Homo sapiens: one gene and its partners. The protein of the gene in region 1 purifies or fractionates together with the protein of each later gene. This does not show direct contact. Each region holds a gene or a part of one and is shown in the gene's direction. Other genes may lie near its edges.

Region 1 (7,033 bases):
CAGAGTAAACTGAGGCAAAGAAAGTTAAGTTTGTTTGTATTTGGACCACAAAGCTGGTTTGTTGGACACTGAGTCAGAATCCAGATGTTACCCTGGGTTGAGCAAGGGATGACTTCTGCGGATGATTCCAGCGCACAGGAATGCGTCCCAATATCAAATCAAAAGTAAACCACCCTTTCCTATCTGCCAGACGCAAAAAGTTTTCCTATCTGGGCTGAAGTCTCCTAGAAAACATTTTCCCGTTTCTAGTACGGCACAAAGCCTTCGCCTACAAGAATGTATGCAAGTATGTTTAAAAATAAAGAAGGAAACAGTGCAGAAAATCAGCAGCAAGCTGTTTCCCCAAAGAGCTGAGTACAGGAGGATGTGAGCTCCCATGTGCCCCGGCCAATGACTCATTCTTGTGGCACTGTGCCTGCCCTGCCCAACCTCAGTGGCTCAGGGAGTCCGCAGCGGCACCCCCATTGGAAGCCTATCTTGGTTCCAACAGCTGGGGTGTCCAGAATACACGGGGCCTCGGGACAGCAGCATTTTCCATCATCTCTGAGCATCTGTGATTGAGTTTTCAGGATGAAGTCTCCCACTTAAGGCAGAGCAAATTCCTGCTTGGGATTCTGCAAAGATAGCCCCAAGCATTTTCCTCCTTGTCTCATTTATCCTTGTTAACTGCCACATGAAGGAGCAGGAAGCAGGTGGCCCTATGCAGAATGGGAAATGGCCAATGGACATCTGGGACAAAGCCCTTCAGATGACCTTTTGATATGATGTTTTAAAGGTTATCTTGAAATTGCTATAATCACCCAGGCAGCACAGGAAAAGGCCTGCCAGGGTCATCTGACTCCCCAGGACAGCTGGGATCTACCTTGGTTTGCCATTAGGCAGTCAGCTCAGTGGTTGACAGGCCTTTTTCCAGGTTGTTCTACTGGGGACACAGCTTCCCGGTGTTCTGCCTGGTGGAACCTGCAGCTGGAGTCACCCTCAGAATGGTGGCAGGGGAATTCCTGCAAGGGACTGCCCAAACCATCCCCAAATGGGGTCAGTTGAGATTCCAAAGAAGAAATCACCAAGTTCCAAAGCACTTATTAGGGGAACTTACATGTAGAGCGCTGCACTGGTCCTCATGACAGACAGCAAGAAAAGAGGTGCTCCGCTTAAGTATGTCTGCGGCAAGGGCTCTGGGTTATGGAGTTATTTGGCCCAAGGTTGGGCTAATTCCTACATGTTTAGCAACATGTTTAATCTTTCAGTATTTCAGGTAACAACCTAAACAGGGTTTCAGTGCCAGGGAATGTTTCCAGGGCTCAGGCCTGCAGGAAAAGACATGCAGCTGGCCAAGTGACAGAGCAGTCTAGGCATTCTGTGTTTCTCGATCAGGACAGATAAGTAAGTGGGGGTTCCTGGGGGACCCTATACCCGGGAGGGAGGGTAACTGCGAATTCAAGGAAGACTTACTTATAAAGAGGAAGAAGGGTTGAAAGATAGTATCCCTAAGGTGATGTTTCCCAGGGCCAGAAGCTCATAGAACTTTCTGAAGGGAGCAGGTCATCAGCCTTAGCATGAGCCCCGGAGCATCAGTGTCTGCTGGCCGTTGTGTGGTGAGTGCTGTGGGTCAGCCTTTGGGCTGCAGCCAGATAAACCTAGACCCAAAACCTCACTTGGTCACATGCTAAGTGAGCTTCATTCTTCTCTTCTGAAAAATGGGGGGATAATAATGGTATTTATCTAACCATGTTGTGAGGATTAAATCAGCCAATGGATAAAAATTTCCTAGTGCAGTTCCTGGCTTCTGAGTGCTCAGAAATGTTGTCTGTTATTGTTAATTAAAGAGGTCTTTCCCAACTGAATGAGAGTCTTAAAGCTCGTTAAATGGGTTTTGAGGGGACTATCAGACACCTGTATTGCAGGTGTGTGGGTATCTCTTGGAAGTGTGGTAGGCACCCCCACAAACACATTACGCCCTTTGAAGAGCTTTGGGGCCATTAACATCCTGTCCAGTTCCATTTCTTAGAGGACAGGGAATCAAATTTTCTAATGGCGGGCCTACACAGCAATTTGTCATTTTAATAAGCACTCAGATGGCTGCAGACTTCACACTCAGACGGTAGGGGTGACCAATTGACAAATCAGATACATGCTGCCTTTTCCTTTCTGTCTGCTGCTAAAAGACCTCAAGATAAATAGAGACAGCAAGGAATGAAAGAAACAGCACAGGCTTGGGCCAGATGAGCAGGAATCCAAAAATCAGCTCTGCCTGATATTTGGTGGCCTGGGTGTCACTTAACCTCTTTGGAAGCCTGTTTTTTTATTTATCCATCCAATTACTCAGTAAGTACTTTTTGAATACATCCATGTGCCGGGCTGTGTTCTAAGTGCTTGGAATACCAGAGAACAAAATGAACACAAACTTATGCCCCTGTGGAGCTTACATTCTGATGGTGGGAGAGAGACTGTTTGAATTAAGCCTGATTCATAAGCAAACAATATAGTATTTATATAGTGGGGATTCCAATATCTAATGCCAGTGAATTGCTGTGGCGATAAGAAGCCACAATCCACATGTAATGCGTGGGACACAGTAGGTATTTAATAAACTATTGTGATTATTCTTTTTAAATTGCTCCCAGGTTTCTCAAACCCTTTCAACACTTAATGTGTAGTTTGCACCTAGATATTGTTCATTTATTCATTCAACAAACAGCTAGCAAGCATCTATTTTGTGCTAGACTCTGTACTAGGCACCAGGGATACAAAAGAACCCTATAAGAGAGTGAGGCCCCTGCCCTTGAGGATTTCACGCCCTGACCCCTGGATAACAGAAGAGAAGCCTGGGAGAGCCCCGGGGTGGGGGTGGCCTTCCATCTTGTGTTCTAGTGAATCAGAACAGCCCACTTCACTGATGGTGTCTTTTTAACTCAAAGCATCCCAGCTATGGCTGGCGATTCTAGGAATGCCATGAACCAGGACATGGAGATTGGAGTCACTCCCTGGGACCCCAAGAAGATTCCAAAACAGGCCCGCGATTATGTCCCCATTGCCACAGACCGTACGCGCCTGCTGGCCGAGGGCAAGAAGCCACGCCAGCGCTACATGGAGAAGAGTGGCAAGTGCAACGTGCACCACGGCAACGTCCAGGAGACCTACCGGTACCTGAGTGACCTCTTCACCACCCTGGTGGACCTCAAGTGGCGCTTCAACTTGCTCGTCTTCACCATGGTTTACACTGTCACCTGGCTGTTCTTCGGCTTCATTTGGTGGCTCATTGCTTATATCCGGGGTGACCTGGACCATGTTGGCGACCAAGAGTGGATTCCTTGTGTTGAAAACCTCAGTGGCTTCGTGTCCGCTTTCCTGTTCTCCATTGAGACCGAAACAACCATTGGGTATGGCTTCCGAGTCATCACAGAGAAGTGTCCAGAGGGGATTATACTCCTCTTGGTCCAGGCCATCCTGGGCTCCATCGTCAATGCCTTCATGGTGGGGTGCATGTTTGTCAAGATCAGCCAGCCCAAGAAGAGAGCGGAGACCCTCATGTTTTCCAACAACGCAGTCATCTCCATGCGGGACGAGAAGCTGTGCCTCATGTTCCGGGTGGGCGACCTCCGCAACTCCCACATCGTGGAGGCCTCCATCCGGGCCAAGCTCATCAAGTCCCGGCAGACCAAAGAGGGGGAGTTCATCCCCCTGAACCAGACAGACATCAACGTGGGCTTTGACACGGGCGACGACCGCCTCTTCCTTGTGTCTCCTCTGATCATCTCCCATGAGATCAACCAGAAGAGCCCTTTCTGGGAGATGTCTCAGGCTCAGCTGCATCAGGAAGAGTTTGAAGTTGTGGTCATTCTAGAAGGGATGGTGGAAGCCACAGGTAAGGCGCTTTGTCCTCCTCAGCCACAGGTGGCCCTACCTACACTTCAGACTTAGGCAACTGTGACTCCAGAAGATGCAGGTCTGTGCCTGAGAGTCCTGGGGTGGCGCAGGCAACACATTCAATCCCTAAATTGTGGTTTGAGGGGTACTGGTACTCAAGATTGAGTAATAGCAATAGCTAACACTGACAGGAACTTCCCAACTTTCAGGCACTGTCCTAAACAATAAACATCTATCATCTGGCCAAATGTCCTCCCACGCCCTATGAGATATAGTGGGTTATTGTTGTTGTTGTTTTGTTTATTTGTTTATTTTTGAGGCAGGGTCTTGCTCTGTCACCCAGGCTAGAGTGCAGTGGCCCGATCTCGGCTCACTGCAACCTCCACCTCCCGGATTCAAGCGATTCTCCTGCCCCAGCCTCTGGAGTAGCTGGGATTACAGGTGCCCGCCACTGCGCCTGGCTAATTTTTGTATTTTTAGTAGAGACAGGGTTTCACCATGTCGGCCAGGTTGGTGTCGAACTCCTGACCTTGTGATCCACCTGCCTCGGCCTCCCAAAGTGCTGGGATTACACGCGTGAGCCACAGTGCCCAGCCAAGATAGTTTTTATTAAGGTACAGATAAAGACACAGGGACACAGACAGGCTAAATTATTTGCCCAAGAGCAAGCACTTTCGAATGATAGAGCTAGGATGGAAATTGAGACCAGGGACCCCAGAGCCAGCACTTGTTTCCAACAGGACAAACTGCCCCTTCTTGGAACAAGTGTTCTACCCAGAAGAGCTCCCTGGTCAGATAGCTCTGGTAATCACAGGGCGAAACAAAAGCGAACTGGTTTCTTTACAGTGGACTTCTCGCTGTCCTTACCCACTGAGTCTCATCACTGGGAGAGGAGGGGATGCAGAATTTCCTAAACTCAAAAGGTTCTCACCAACCCCTTACTTGGAGAGACCTTTGCTGCAGGGGAAGGGCTTTTGTGGCTGGGCTCCCTCTGGGGCAGCCAGCCCTCAGCATTCTTGCAGAAGGTTGGTTTAGTGAACGCAGGGCAGGTGAGGCTCCTTTCTCACAAAAAAACAGTGCATCCATGCTGAGGCATCAACATCCATGTATGCCCAAGAAAATGCCCTTTGTGTGGCCAGCATGGCACCTCCCTGCTCAGCTACTGACTCACCAGCAGCTGGTAGCCAAGGACCCCCCAGTTCCTCAGCCACTCAGCCATGGCAGACCTCTGTGAGGTGGCTCCAGGGAGTCCAAGGCCTGGGACCGCCTGAACTCTGGCAGAGGACCCTAGTCCCCACCCCACTCGCAGCAAAACCCCACATCCTGCATATTTCATTTCTTCCTCGTGCCTTCCTTTCTCTCTCTCTCTCTTTTTTTTTTCAACCAGGTACAATGAGCAGCTGGTCAGGCCCTAAGGATGGGTTCTAGAAACTCAGTCACGCTCAGAATGATGCATGTCTATTTTTCCAATTCTTGCAAATGACAGTGTAGGGCTGGCTTCAGTCTCATTTTACAGATGTCGAGGCTGAACCTAAAAAGCATTATGTAGACAGTGAGTGTTCATATTCAGCTCTTCCACTTACAAATCTGGAGCTTCTCTCACCACTCTGCCCCACTAAAATACTAGCGGCCTGTCAGGAAGATGGCCAAGCACACATTCCAGCCCCCAGGAAGCTGGCTGCCGGGCAGGGGACTCAGACCCAGACTGCACAAGCCTTCCCATTTTGAAGTTGGTGGAACCAGGAGAGGGCAATGACAAGCTCCAGGGACTGGTGCCAGAGGTGGCTGCTCGGCCATCTGCTGGGGGCTGGAGTCTGGCAGGCAGCATATGGTGGCAGGTGGGCAGCCCCGGGGCCGAGGACAGTCAGGACTCAGGAAGGTTTCCCCCACAGAGCTAGGGGCTTGCAGGTCACCCTGCCCTTGCCTCCAGGGTCAGAATCAGGACACAGGCTGCATTTCAGGGGAAGAACTCCACTCTGAAGCCACAAAAAAGGGATTGGGTGAGAGACATGGGGTCAAATCATAGCACACCTGACCACTCTCCAAGGCCATCCTCACTCCCCAGCCATGCAGCAGGGAGAGCGCCCACAGGCTCGTAGTGGAGGGAGCCAGTGCTATCTGCCCCGCTGCCCCGCTGCACCCCCAACCACACCTCCCTCAAAGTCAGGGGCCCGCCATTCACTTGTCCTCACGGTTTGGCCTCCTTCCCCTCCCACAACCCGGGCTATGCTTGCTCTGTCCCACAAACTGTAGGGGAGATCCAGGGAGATAGGGCAGGAGACCCTGGCCCACATCTGTCCTGGATGTGGGTGGTTTGGTTGTCAAGCACATGCAGCCAGGTGTGGGCTGGGAATCCATGCCTCAGCTTGAGTAGCACAACTCTGCCGTATCCTGCCTGAGCGGGTTTGAGCAAGCTGCTTACCTTGTCAGCAAAGTGAGGAAAATCAATCTCTTAGGGCTGTTGGGAGGATTCAAGATGAAAAGGAGCTGTGCTGATCACTATACCTGACACCTGGGGAATCCTTTCCAAACGTATTGAGCAATGACAGGGACACACCAGGATCTCTAGCTACAGGGCAGCCGCTGCCACACCCCATGAGGAGCAGGAGGATCCCAAAGGGGAAAGGTCCTGCCCATACCTTTCCCAAGGCCCTGGGAGGCTGCAGACGTCTGGCATGGTCTAGGCTGCTCAGGGCCCGGTTTGGGCCTCTCTGCCAAGGCTGTGGGGACAACAAGGGTAACGACTGAAGGGAGAGGCCCGGCCCAGGCAGGCATCACTGAGAGCAGAGAGCAGGCTGTGGGCGCACCTGTGTGGGTGCGCTGGGGCTGAGAAGCAGCCTTGGACCTGGGTCTGCTTTGTATGAGCCCCTCCCAGAGAAAGCCCAAAGTGGGAGCTGGAGACGGTTGCCTTCAGCACCCAACCAACACAGTTAATGCCTTCCTTGGCCAGAAGATTAAATATCAGAAAGCTGCTTTCCTGTGACCCTAAGCACAGAGGCCTCCTCATCCATAAACAAAGCTGCCCTCCTCTCTGGAGAGAAAGCAACACCTAAAAATAGCATAGGCATGGCACGGGCTGAGTAGACAGGGAAACGAGGCATTGGAGCAGCCTCAAATCAAGAAGCCAAGCTCTGTGTGTGCGTCTGCTCCTCTTCCTGTGTGTATG
Region 2 (7,033 bases), on another chromosome or scaffold:
CTTTTTTAGCAAGTTTTTATGTAATGTTATTATATTTAGCTGATTAAACTTTTCTTGTTACAGACGTGCCAAATACTGGTGTAAGCAAACCTAGAGTTTCTGACGCTGTCCAGCCCAACAACTATCTCATCAGGACAGAGCCAGAACAAGGAACCCTCTATTCACCAGAACAGACATCTCTCCATGAAAGTGAGGGTCTGTTGTGTTATCTTTTAAGTACTGGATTTGCTTTTAAGATTTTATTCTTGAAAGCGAGTGTCAGAAGTGTGTATAATAAAGATATTTCTTGGTTTCATTCTTACAGGATCATTGGGTAACTCAAGAAGTTCAACACAAATGAATTCTTATTCCGACAGTGGATACCAGGAAGCAGGGAGTTTCCACAACAGCCAGAACGTGAGCAAGGCAGACAACAGACAGCAGCATTCATTCATAGGATCAACTAACAACCATGTGGTGAGGAATTCAAGAGCTGAAGGACAAACACTGGTTCAGGTAAGCCAAACGCATCAAGATCTCTGCAAAGAAATACCTTCCGGCCGGGCACAGTGGCTCATGCCTGTAATCCCAGCATTTTGGGAGGCCGAGGCGGGTGGATCACCTGAGGTCAGGAGTTCAAGACCAGCCTGCCTAACATGGCGAAACCCCGTCTCTACTAAAAATACAAAAATTAGCCGGGCGTGGTGGCGGGCGCCTGTAATCTCAGCAACTCGGGAGGCTGAGGCAGGAGAATCACTTGAGCCCAGGAGGCAGAGCTTGCAGTGAGCCGAGATCGCACCACTGCACTCCAGCCTGGGCGACAGAGCGAGACTCCGTCTCAAAACAAAAAAAAAAAAAAGGAAAAAAAAAGAAATACACTCCTAGTTGAATATCTGTTATAGGTATTTCTTATTAGAAATAAATGTGTACAATTTTTATAGAATGGATAAAATAGTAAAATCATTTTATTCTATTTGAGATACAATGTTAAATATGTTTGTTTCTATGAGTTAGCTCCCATTGATGAATTCTGATGAGTTCCTGGATACAGTAGAGTAATTCTTCTGGAAACAACAAGTTTGGCATGAGGAGAAGAGTCTAAGGGGAATGTAAGAGAGTTGAATGGAATGTTTTGGTCCCTGAGGGGTTATGAGTTCCTAAAAATACTAGGGCTAAAATATGCTATAAAAAGCTCTAGAGGGCAGGGTGCTATACCCACACCTGCATAAAATGGGATTTGCCCATTCTAACCAAAGGTTATTACCATCATCACTGGAATTATTCTCTAAAACTACATTTCTTTTCTTTTACTAGATAGAATACAGCTATTCCTGCTTAAAGAAAGTTATTGTATAGAAACATATCCATTCTGTTAAGTTAGGGTTCTCTAACTTGATAGCAAAAAATATATATTGCATGTATATTTATAAAAACTCTTCAGCTCCTTTCTCATTACCACTGTATTCACATCAGTCCACCAGCATGTCCCAGGATTCAGAGAGGCAATAGGAGTCCTGCATGGTGGTAACCAGTGAGGCTAACTATCTGTGCCAGGACCCCAAAACCCCAGTGCTTTCTTTAGAGCTGAAAAGTAGCAAGATAATCAAATAAGTTAGGAGGACACTGTGCTGCTTCTACTGCAATACAGGAAGCTCTACAGGTACACAGCAATGGGTCACGGTTCCCAACGCCCACAGAGAAACATAATACAACTTTGGCACTTTTGCTCAGCAATTCAGGAGAAATTTCAGAGTCATTTAAAACATGTTTGTATTAAACACAAATATAACATATGAATTTTTCAAGCTAAAATGGGAAATCTTGTGCATGTGGCAAGCAACTTCAGGCTGCACCCCAAGTCCTCAGATTATATATTTATTCTTTTGCTGTTGGGGATGCTTTGGTGGAAAAGTTTGAGAAGCTCTGGACTAAATGCTAATGGGAGTTCATCCGCTTAGGTGAATTTCTGTGTCAGCAGGTCTGAAATCACACTTTTCAACAGCAGTTACCTTATATCTATATAAATTTTATTGCCCTTAGTAATGATCATGTAAACACTTTTTTCTTTAAGAGTAAGTTGATTTTCTCACTAGAGCTAAAGAATTGTTTGCAAGGGGGTGTCTGAGACTTAATTTGCATGTAGTCTAGGCAACACATTTTCTAGTTGTCTGGACCAACTTATCACTTCATTTTGGTAGTTGCAAGTCATGTGGGATTTTCTTTGCATTTTGTTACCACTATTACCACCCAATCATGCTTTTTTTGTTGTTGTTCTTAATTAATAGAGACAAGGTCTCACTCTGTCACCCAGGCTGGAGTACAATATGGCAAAATCATAGCTCACTATAGTCTCAATCCCCTGGGCTCAAGCGATTTTCCTGACTCAGCCTCCTGGAGTAGCTAAGACTGCAGGCACATGCCACCATGCCCAGCTAATTTTTTTGTTTGTTTGTTTTTTGTAGAGGCTGGGCCTCACTATGTTGCCCTGGCTGGTGTCAAGCTCCTGGCCTCAAGCAATCCTCCCTCCTCAGTCTCCCAATGTGTAGGGATTATAGGTGTCAGCCACCACACCCAGCCCCAATCATGCTTGTTAACTTTCCAGCTGTCTACTAATTTTTAAACCCCATCTTTTTTGCCTTGTTGTTTACCATCCTCTTTCCTCCCCATGTCTTCTCCCCTGCTATTGCCTTCCCAAAATTGTTGAACTTGAACACACAGTGAGTTCTCACTGCAAGTGTTTCAGCCAGCCCAGTTGCATGCGACACCTGGAGGCAGAGCAGACATCCTCATATGACCCCTAAGGGTATACAAAGCCCTCATCTGATCCCTGCTTCTTTCCTTACCTCCCCACCTAAAAGTGGATGTGGGTTGATGACAACTAGACTCTAGCAGCCACTAAGGAGGTAACAGAGCAGCCTGGTCCTAGTCTTCTAACCTGGATCCCTAATGTCTTTATTTCTCAGTTGGCTCTCCTTTTTCCCATACATGTTTCCCTTGGGCCCCTTCTCCAGCCTAACCATTCCTTTTTATTGTTGCACAGCATGAAAAACAGTGTCCAGCACCTGCTGTAACTGCAGGAATCAACAGATTCAGAGTAGGATCAGCAATGGCAGAAATGTTCACTTTCCATCCTGGTCTTTTCCAGCTGTCTAGGCCAAGAACCCAAAAGAGGCTTTGACCATTCCTCCTGCTGGAATAGATTTGGGGGTGCCTTTTTTTTGCATCTCTTTAAATCCACCAATTAAAGCTAAGAACTCATAGATCAGAAGAGGTAAAAAGAAATGGCTAAAGTGAGAAGCTATGCTTGATCTAAAGGAATCAACAAATTTGCCTAGAGCACCTGTGTAGCCAAGCTGTTCCCCGAAGTAAATTCACAGTGGAGAGCGCCAGACCCACACTTGATCCAAATGTTCATTTATTCCACAATGAAAGAACATGTTCCTTTTGTTAATGGGACCAACCCATAAAGAAAAACAATGATAAATATTCCACTAGCTACATTTAGACTGATATATTCAAATTATATTCAAATTTTTGTTTTACATAAATGCATTGCCTTGGCCAAACTTTGCTTCATAGGGAATGAAGTAAGTACATTGTTCTGGTGCCCCTTCACGCTCATGAATTACATGTAACACTTAGAATAAAACATTTTATGTGCTGTGAAAAATGCATAGGCAATAGTTAAAAATGTAAAGATAAAAAAGGAGTATTAAATGTCTTCAGATCTCTTTTTACAGGTTAATTTTAGCATTTGGTTTAAACCACCAAAAAAAAAAAAAAAAACTAAAACAACTAAAGCACCGTGAGGAAAAATTAATGTCTGGCTCAAAGCATAAAAAGGAAAAGAATCTTAGATGCCTAAAATAGTGGATTCACATTCTGTAGTGAGCTATGTGTATTTCTTTTGTAATGGCAATGAACACAAAACCCTGGATAAACCCATTCTCTTTTTTCCCCCCCTTTCATCAGCCATCAGTAGCCAATCGGGCCATGAGAAGAGTTAGTTCAGTTCCATCTAGAGCACAGTCTCCTTCTTATGTTATCAGCACAGGCGTGTCTCCTTCAAGGGGGTCTCTGAGAACTTCTCTGGGTAGTGGATTTGGCTCTCCGTCAGTGACCGACCCCCGACCTCTGAACCCCAGTGCATATTCCTCCACCACATTACCTGCTGCACGGGCAGCCTCTCCGTACTCACAGAGACCCGCCTCCCCAACAGCTATACGGCGGATTGGGTCAGTCACCTCCCGGCAGACCTCCAATCCCAACGGACCAACCCCTCAATACCAAACCACCGCCAGAGTGGGGTCCCCACTGACCCTGACGGATGCACAGACTCGAGTAGCTTCCCCATCCCAAGGCCAGGTGGGGTCGTCGTCCCCCAAACGCTCAGGGATGACCGCCGTACCACAGCATCTGGGACCTTCACTGCAAAGGACTGTTCATGACATGGAGCAATTCGGACAGCAGCAGTATGACATTTATGAGAGGATGGTTCCACCCAGGCCAGACAGCCTGACAGGTGCGTACAAGGTGACAGTGCTACATAAAACCCAGTGAGGAAATCTTCTGTGTAACTTAAGTTGAAACAAAGAATGAAAAGGTGGAAAAGGCTCATTCGTGTTTTTAATCTCAGATTTTAAACTATAAACTTAAGGTTAACTTGTCTTTCAGGTTCTGTAATTCTTAATACATGAAATTATATACATTTATATCAATAGAATCCTTTTGCAATGGATATAACTCTTTTGTAATATTTTCCCACTAAATATTAGGGTTTAAAATGTGCTTTTTTTGCATTTCATAAGTATTAGTTGCAATTCTAAGCAGTTGACTAATTTTTTTTAATGAAATATTTTTTACCAGCCAGGCCTACCCCTAAACATACCCTAAAGTTATGTTAAAAGGTGGTATCAGAATATCTGTTTAAATGTTTAAATTTTTTCTTTAGAAATGCTTTGGTAATATAGACTAGACTATGAATTTTATCCCCTACTTGATTTTGGCATTTTAACGGTAAATGCACAAAGCGCTTATGAATCACTTTTACATGCCACTCCTATTAAAGCAGAAAGACACCGGGTCCCTAATACAGCTGTTCCAACTTCAGGGTTTTTCGTGGAGGGTTTCCTACATGGTGTAAAGATTTGGTTATTTTAAATAAAATGCAATTTAACTTTAGTGTTTTAAATTATATTTTAAAAGTAACATATACAGAATGGTAAAAATTAAAACTATATGGGAAAATATTGAAATAAGTGAAAGCCTTTTACCCTCACCCAGTCCCATCACAGTTGATGTGGCTTTCAGAATGTTTCTTTGCATTTACAAATATATGCAATCCATGCAAATCTGCACACACATTGTGTTTTCTATTGATGGAATTCTATCATATAGATCTTCTATACTTTGTTCTTTTCACTAACTATGTCTTAAGAGCTCTACCTCATTCTTAATAGATGCATGGGACCCATTTTTTATAGATATATCATAATTTATTTGCATTTTCCTCCTAATGGACAGTTAGGTTGTTTGTTATGTTTAGCTGTTAGAGATGATGTAGTACATACATTGTTCTCCCTGCATATTTCACATAAGTACTAGGGTAACTGGGATCCAGTAGAATTGCTGCATCAAAATATATGTGTATTTTTACTTTGAGAGATATTACGTAGAATTGCCTTCTAAGAAGGTTACACACGGATTTATATTTCTGCCAGTAGTTTGAGTGCCTGTTTGTCTATACCTTGTCTACACTGCACTAGTGCTGCATATTCCAAGTTTTTCATCTTTGCCAATCTGATAGGTAAAAAGCTGTACCTCATTGTTTTTAAGGGCTTTTATTGAGTTATGACTGAGGTTGAAGATTTAATCTGTTCATCAACGACTTTATTTCATTTTGTGAAACTACAAGTTCTTTTGTCTATTTTTATAATTCGTGAAAGCTTTTTTTTACTAGAGATAAGCTAGCACCTCGTAATATGCTTCTCAAGTATTTTTTCCATTTTGTCACTTCTTTTTATTTCATTTTGGTTTTAATTTACAAAACTGTTTAACATTCTTACATAGTAAAATTAGTATCTTTTTTATGTCTTCTAAGAAAATTTAAGCCTTTTTGAGATTTTTGTGATTGAATAATTTTGCCTGGAGAATTTATATTGAACTTGATTTTTGAGCTCAAAGAAATTCTTAGTGGAGAAACCACCTCTTTTTCATTCATCTATCCAAGAAGTGTGCTTGACTTAGATATTTTCTGAAATGCCTCTGAAAAGTATGCAGCAAAATGATGTAGGAATCATTTATGAAATTCTACCTCCCAAGGAAATCTTAGAAAATAAATAGTTCTGAGGACTTCCATATTCCCCCGTGTGTATAGAACAGCTATGTAGAAATCTCTGCTTGTAAGAGAGTAGAGAGGAGACTGGAGGAAGGAAGCCAGCATATAAATTATTGTCTCCATATTTAACCCTAAGAGGACTCATTTCCTCTGGTTTAAACAGTCTGTTTCTCTGACAATGCAGGTAAAATTAGACTTTATGTCTTGGGGGGAAAATATATATAATGTCTATTTTTTAGGCCCAGCCTCTCAGTGATTTTTTTCTAGAAATACTGCAGTGTTCTCAAGAAGCAAAGTGTTCTTGATTTCAAAGGACTAATAGCCTGCTAATTGATAAGCAATGTTTTGTACTACATTCAGGGACTTGGGTATTTGATGATCATAATTTAAATGATACAAACTACAGAAATATATATATATATACTCTAAAATGTTCATTTCAGAATAATCATGGCATGTAAAGAAAACTTTTGAGGAGATAAAGAATTGATCTTTGAAAGATAAATTTATGTTTATTTCTAATGCCATAAATATAAATATTTTTAATCACATGGAATCACCGTAATAATAGCTAAACTAATATGTTTGTGGAATTGCAAATAGAAAGTATTGGTTGGATAAATAATGCAGTGGCGTATCAGTGTTTTCCATTATTTGGAAGGGGAAGTAATGTTATTAAAAATTAATCAGTGGAAATGCTTCTGAAAAAATTATTTT
Region 3 (6,185 bases), on another chromosome or scaffold:
GCAAGATCCTGGCCACCGCAGGCTGGGACCACCGCATCCGCGTGTTCCACTGGCGGACGATGCAGCCACTGGCCGTGCTGGCCTTCCACAGCGCCGCTGTCCAGTGCGTGGCCTTCACCGCCGATGGCTTGCTGGCCGCGGGCTCCAAGGATCAGCGGATCAGCCTCTGGTCACTCTACCCACGCGCATGACTCACCCACTCCCTTCCCGGGAGACGAGGAGGGCGGGCAGGGAGGTGGGCATCAGGCCCCAGCCTTGGCCTGAAACCTCAAGGGCCTCTGAGGACCAGCAAGTCATGGCCCAAGGACCATGGAGTCCCCGCTGTCTTCATGAGGTTGGTATTTCCTTTTGTGGAGTGCCTCATCACAGGACGGTGACTCTGGGGGCCAGCCAGAGCCCTGGCCGTCCGAGGCCTGCAGGAGACGTTGGCTTGGGCCTGCTGTGTTGCCAGCTGAGGGTATTTTATAATAAATTTCCATTGCCAAGTTGCAGGCTTGAGGTGGGAGCTCCCTGAGGAGGCCCTGGTCCCCCACTTAGCATCAGTGCCCTCAGACCCCCACCAGGCAGGATGCTCAGCCCCACCCTCACACCTGCTGTTGAATGGGCCACCCCGAGTGTGGGTTTCCTGGGCCAGGCCTCAGGAGATGATAGGCCCCAACCATAGCTGCGTCGATGTCCACATGACCCCTCACCCCGAGGAGGCCAGGAGCTCCCAACACACAGGTTGAGGCCAGGATCAGGATCAGGAAGTAACTGAACTCCCTAAAGAGTGAAGCAGAGAAAGGTGCCTGTGAGGGACGGCAAGGGGGGCTTGCAGCGCACAGGGCCAGGCCAGATGTGGGATCCGGGAGGGCACGCCTGCCCGCAGAGGGTGCAGTGGGGAAGGCGCACAGGGTGCACCTCCAGGTGAGTGCTGGGCAGAAGGCACGAGAGCAGCAAGGGAGTGTGACAAGCACCGCCTCACAGTGGCCAAGGCCACAGTCACAGCTGCGGCTGCACACAGGGTGGCCCCCAGGGCACAACACAGCAAGAGCAGGACTTAGCAGCCAGAGCCTCACACTGCATGCAGCCGGGCCCAGCCTGGCCGGTCGTCTCCTCCTAAAAGCGGGTGTTGATTGGGAAAGAACCATGACCCTGAATATTGGAGTGGGGCCCATGGGCAGATCCAGAGAAGCTGGGACCACACACGCCTGTGTCTGCCCGGATTGCCGGAAGAGCCCCTCTAGCTGAAGGCCCGGGGTGGCCTCCCTTGAGGCAGTTGCCCTGCAAGGCCCTGCCGATGCTCCTTGGGACCCCCACCTGGGCTTCTAGTCCTAGAACTAGACTCGAGTCCAGCAGACCCCCAGGATGAGATACAGAGGGTGACCCTGAGAGTGGCACCAGCCTCCTGCAGGACCACATGGCATTTCCAGGTTTCCAGGCAGAAATCTGAACATGTGTGGGACGGATCGGAAGGGTGTGGGATCCAGGTGGCCGGAGCAGGGGTGGATCAGGGGAGTTCCCGGAACAGACCTGCCAAACGGAGGGCTGGACTGGGCGCTGCAGCTTGGGGCCAGGAAGGCTCCAGTGCCGGGCTGGGGGTGGGGGCTGGATTACAGCCTGAGGGTGGCTGCACTGAGTGAAGTGGACATGGCCAGCCGCCGTGGGGTACAGCCGAGGAGGGCTTCCAAGGCCTGGGGATGGGGGTGTTGGATTTGTCAGTGAGACCTGTGCACCCACTGCAGGGGGTCCCAAGGCCGTGCCTCCCCAACCCCACTGTGAGGAACATGGTTGCTGGGGGGCCCGGAGTCCTTGAGGAGTCCTGTGACCACACTTCTCTGTTGGTCAGAGGTACCATGGGGACCGTTCCATCAAACGGGAATGTCAGTGCTGGCCGGGAAAGCGGCCCCTGGCCCAAGCTTGGAGACCACCTGGCTCGGGTACTGGCCTGGCTCCGTTGGACAAGGGTGGCCACCAGGTGCCCAGGACCTTTGGAGAGGGGGGCCCTGCTGCTTTTCCTCGAGTGTCCTATAGCCGCCAGGATGCGTAGGGCACTCCGGGAGGTATTTTCATATCACTGAGGTGTCAGGGAGGGGAAGGGTCCTGGGTTTAGGCTGCAGTGACTGCAGGTGCTGAGGGAGCTGTGCCCTGGGTGCTCATCACAGGCTGTCACAGTGAGGGAAGGTGTCAGGTTCTGACATCCCCATGACAGCGGCAGGGTAGGTGGAGTGGGAATTGGCTTTGCAGTTTCCCTGCATGCCCTTGACAGCCTTGCCAAAGGCACATCTGCCCCGCCTCAGCTCCCACCCTGAGGGTTCTGGGCCTCTACCCCTTCCCCTGTTTATGTCCCTGTCATCTTTGGCATCATCACTGTAGTTACAAAACTCCCTACGTCCCACAGCCACGAGGTGGGTATCCCACATGAGGGCCCAGGTGTGCATGCCAGCATGAGGTTGGCGAGTGGCACTGCCTGCTGATGTCTTACATAGAGGCCATGAAGAGCTGTGGGCAGGGTGTACAGACCCTGAGTTGGCCCCTGGCCCTCGTGCTTTCAGTCAAAGGCACAAGCAGGGTGGATGGCAGGCGGCTGCCCCCTAGCCTGGCCTTGAGCTCCCTGCCCCAGGCCATGTGGCGTTGAGCAGTGTCCAGGCACATCTTGTTCTGAATCTCAGTGTGCAGGGATGGAGTCGGGACAGCGTGAGTCCTGCATGCCTAACACAGCCCTCACCCCTCCAGTGCACAACGGGGCCACGTGCCCGCATCTGGGTGGCTAGGCAGATAGGGCCCCCCTTGCCAGGCAGATCCAGCTTCTGAGGCCTTATAGACGTCCTGTGGAGGGCAGGCCCAGGACTTTCATTCACCTGGCTGAGCTGCCTGGGAGAGCAGCAGAACCGGTGCTGGGGTCCAAGCCGGCCAAGAGCAGTGCAGCCCTCCTGGTCCTGTTCCTCTCTTGAGCTGCTCCGTGGTGTCCACAGCAGAGCCATGTGGCTCTGGACAGGTCGGCCTTTGTGTCAACAGAACCTGGGTCGTGATGAATCACCATGCGTCTGACCAGCCTTGAAACCCCCACAACAGAAGAAGAAACGGTCTCAGCTCCAGACATCCAGCTTGGAAAAGATGCACCTGAACATTGGCATTCTCTTCCTAGCAAACAGCCACTTCCTGTAGGCTGGCAGGAACGCCAACAGAGCCAGCAGTGAAGGCATTAAGTGGGGAGGAGGGGTGGCCCGGAGGCAGCACGCGAAGGTCAGCATGCAGCTCCTGGGATGAACCTGAGAGGCGACTCCTGGCAGCATGGCTGGTCGCTGCCATCACGCCCCTGGCCAACCCACCAACTGGGAGAGGCAGCCCTTCCACATCTTCCTCCATAATGCTCTTGGGTAGCAGTGAGGCCTCTCAAGCCAGAGAGAACTTGGTGTTTGGAAACAACGGCGGACATTTCTTGCCATTTTCAGTGCCAACTCAGGTAGGTGTGTTCTACCATCCTGTGTTTTTGGGGTGTTTTTTTTTTTGAGTCAGAGTCTCACTCTGTCCCCCAGGCTGGAGTGCAATGGAGCAGTCTCGGCTCACTGCAACCTCTGATTCCCAGGTTCAAGCGATTCTCCTGCCTCAGCCTCCCGAGAAGCTCAGGACCACCCACATAGGTGCAGGCCATCATGCCCAGCTAATTTTTTATTTTTTTTTATAGAGAAGGAGTCTCGCTATGTTGCCCAGGCTGGTTTCGAACTCCTGGGCTCAAGCGATCGATCCTCCCGCCTCTAGCCTCCCAAAGCACTAGAATTATAGGCCTGAGCCACTGCGCCCGGCCCACCATCCTGTTCTTATTGGAAGAATTTCCATGTGTCGAGGCACGGGCACAACGTAGCTGGTCCTCTGCTCAGGGCCCCACAAGGCTGCGTCAGGGTGGCAGCGCGGCTGGGGGCTTTTTCTGTTCAAATCCAGATTCTCGTGGCTGTGAGCCCCAGCCCTGGGCACTGTCCGCCTGGTGGTGTCTTCACAGCCAGCAGGGGTGGCCTTGGGGTGTTCTGTGGAGTAACTTTCACGGCCCAGAGTGGGATCCTGAGTGGCTGGAGCCGTATGCTCCAGCATCCCCAGCCGCTGCCTCCGGTGCAGGTGGAGTGGGCCCCTCTGATTACCAGGAGCTGTCAGAGGGGCAGCAGGTCCCACTCCACTGGCCGGTGGGCAGCTGTGTGCAGGGACGCGGGTCCTGGCACGTCTGCCTGGTGAGGCCCTGCCTCCAGTGCCAAGGGGCCTCCCCTCTCGACGGTGGGCGCCACCATGTGCTGACCTCTGTGCAGCCCCACTTTACAAGGTAGGTTCGGCCAGCACCCCATCCGCGGGCGGGCAGCACTCACCCAGCGTTGCGCCGCCAACAGGGTCCCTCTTAGACAAGCAGCTGTGCCTAGAGCCTTTTCCTTCCTCCCTGCGTGTTACCTGCAGGCCAACAGACGGCCCTGGGTCTGGGACCAGGAGAACCTGCCTCCGCCTCTGGCAGTGGGTGTCCCTGCAGGCAGATTGGGCTTGGCACGTAGACACCGAGGGGTCAGCCGATGCCGGGAGATGATCCCGGGAAGGGCTCCGGAGCACAGCCCAGGACCCGCCGCCGCTGCTGGGCGCTCCATGTTGACGTGCTGTGCGTGTCTCCACTCCCCAGGCAATGATGTTCAATCAGGTGTTTCCCACCTGTGTCTCTGCCAAGAAGCCACAGAACACCCTCTGCACAAAAGGAGTGTTTGCACAAAGAAAAACAACCCTCCGGGGGTTCTTTAGAAATGCTTATACTCAATTAGCTAGAACTTCATGTGAAATCCCAGCGTGGAAGACAACAAGCCGGCACCGGTGAAAACTTTGCTGTGCACCTGCCCTCTACCAAGCTGCCAGCCCCACCAGCCCTGTGGTCCTAGGTGGGCACAGCTGCTGCACGGTCCCCCAGGCCTGCCTCTCCTCGGGGTCTCAACCTTCATACCAGATTTGCCAGCATCCCCATTCCCGCCTTGTGGGTGGAGAGTCCTTGAGACCCTCTGTCACTCTGTCAGCTTCCCCAGGTCAGCGAGCTGTGGCTTGGCTCCCACGCATCAGCTTTTATGGGAGGCCCATTAGGAGCTGGGCAGGAGGGACAGAGGGGAGGCCAGGCAGCCACTGCTGAGTGGGACGGGTAGCCCAGCCCATGAGGCTGGCCAGCCCTACAGGGGAGGTCCCACAGCACTGGCCGGGAAGTCCACATAGGAAAGCATCAGTTGAGGGATGAAGCCACGGACGATGGGGACAACGGCCACAGGGTGTGCTAAGCTGAGGAAATTAGTAGGAGGTGCTCATAAGCTGTTTTGTTTTTTGGTTTGTTTGTTTGTTTTTTCTTTTAAGAGACCAGGGACAGTGGGGGTCTCACTCTGTCACCCAGGCTGGAGTGCAGTGGCATGATCATAGCTTACTGCAGCCTCCAACTAATAGGCTCAAGTGATCCTCCTGCCTCAGCCTCCCGAGTAACTCATGGCCTTTAAGTGAACTGCTTCCACCATCCAGCTGTGCAGGTGGCCTGGGAACAGCAGCACATCTGTCCCCTGCCACCTCTTGCATGCACACTTGACCTCCTGACTTGGGCTCTGAAACCTGTAAAATGTGGGGTGTAGAGAAATCGAGTCATTTGGCCTCATCCTGGTGCCATTATCTCTTGCTACATTAATAAACCACCTCAAACAGAGCAGCATAACAGCCATTCTGGGCACGTGGGCTCCGTGGGTCGGGAATTTAGGAGAGGCTGGGCTGAGCAGTTTGTCTACTCCACGGGGTGATGGCCAGGGCTGGAGGATTCGCTTCCATCACAGCCTCTTCACTCAGGTGCTTGGAGCCTTGGCTTCATTCAGGGGCTGGGCACAGCGGGGACCACCAACCTGAGTACCTTCAAGTGTCCTTGCAGTGTGGTGGTCTCAGGGACTCAGACTTCTTACTTGGGGGCTTCAAGAGCACGTCCAGCAAGCCAGGTTGGAGCCCAGAGCCTTCTGTGACCAGCCCTGGAGTCCAGGAGAGGGGAAACAGATCCCTACACTGGGTGGAGGAAGGTCAAAGTGTTTGTGGCCTTTATCAAATAAGGCTTGTCCTTGTTTCTCTTTGTGTAGCAAGAAAGAGTGAACACAGACAGCTGAGGCCCCAGAAACAGGGAAGGAGCTAGAATCCATGCACATCAGCCTCACACACCATCAGTAGGTGGG

Evidence for each region. The genes of interacting proteins can lie anywhere in the genome.
Region 2: the proteins of KCNJ5 (region 1) and PKP4 purify together in Homo sapiens (affinity purification with mass spectrometry; 2 studies listed by BioGRID and IntAct, with this or other methods). This does not show direct contact.
Region 3: the proteins of KCNJ5 (region 1) and GNB1L purify together in Homo sapiens (affinity purification with mass spectrometry; 2 studies listed by BioGRID and IntAct, with this or other methods). This does not show direct contact.

What each region holds. Positions count from the first base shown.
Region 1 is NC_000011.10:128,908,346-128,915,378, forward strand, and holds part of KCNJ5 (G protein-activated inward rectifier potassium channel 4), read left to right. Parts: intron 1-1,506; exon of another isoform or gene 1,507-1,595; intron 1,596-2,918; 5' UTR 2,919-2,928; coding exon 2,929-3,865; intron 3,866-7,033. UniProt on the Homo sapiens protein: Inward rectifier potassium channels are characterized by a greater tendency to allow potassium to flow into the cell rather than out of it.
Region 2 is NC_000002.12:158,620,927-158,627,959, forward strand, and holds part of PKP4 (plakophilin-4), read left to right. Parts: intron 1-63; coding exon 64-195; intron 196-304; coding exon 305-495; intron 496-3,951; coding exon 3,952-4,501; intron 4,502-7,033. UniProt on the Homo sapiens protein: Plays a role as a regulator of Rho activity during cytokinesis. May play a role in junctional plaques.
Region 3 is NC_000022.11:19,782,715-19,788,899, reverse strand, and holds the end of GNB1L (guanine nucleotide-binding protein subunit beta-like protein 1), read left to right. Parts: coding exon 1-191; 3' UTR 192-5,677; downstream 5,678-6,185. UniProt on the Homo sapiens protein: Acts as a critical regulator of DNA damage response (DDR) signaling via specifically regulating phosphatidylinositol 3-kinase-related protein kinase (PIKK) family proteins.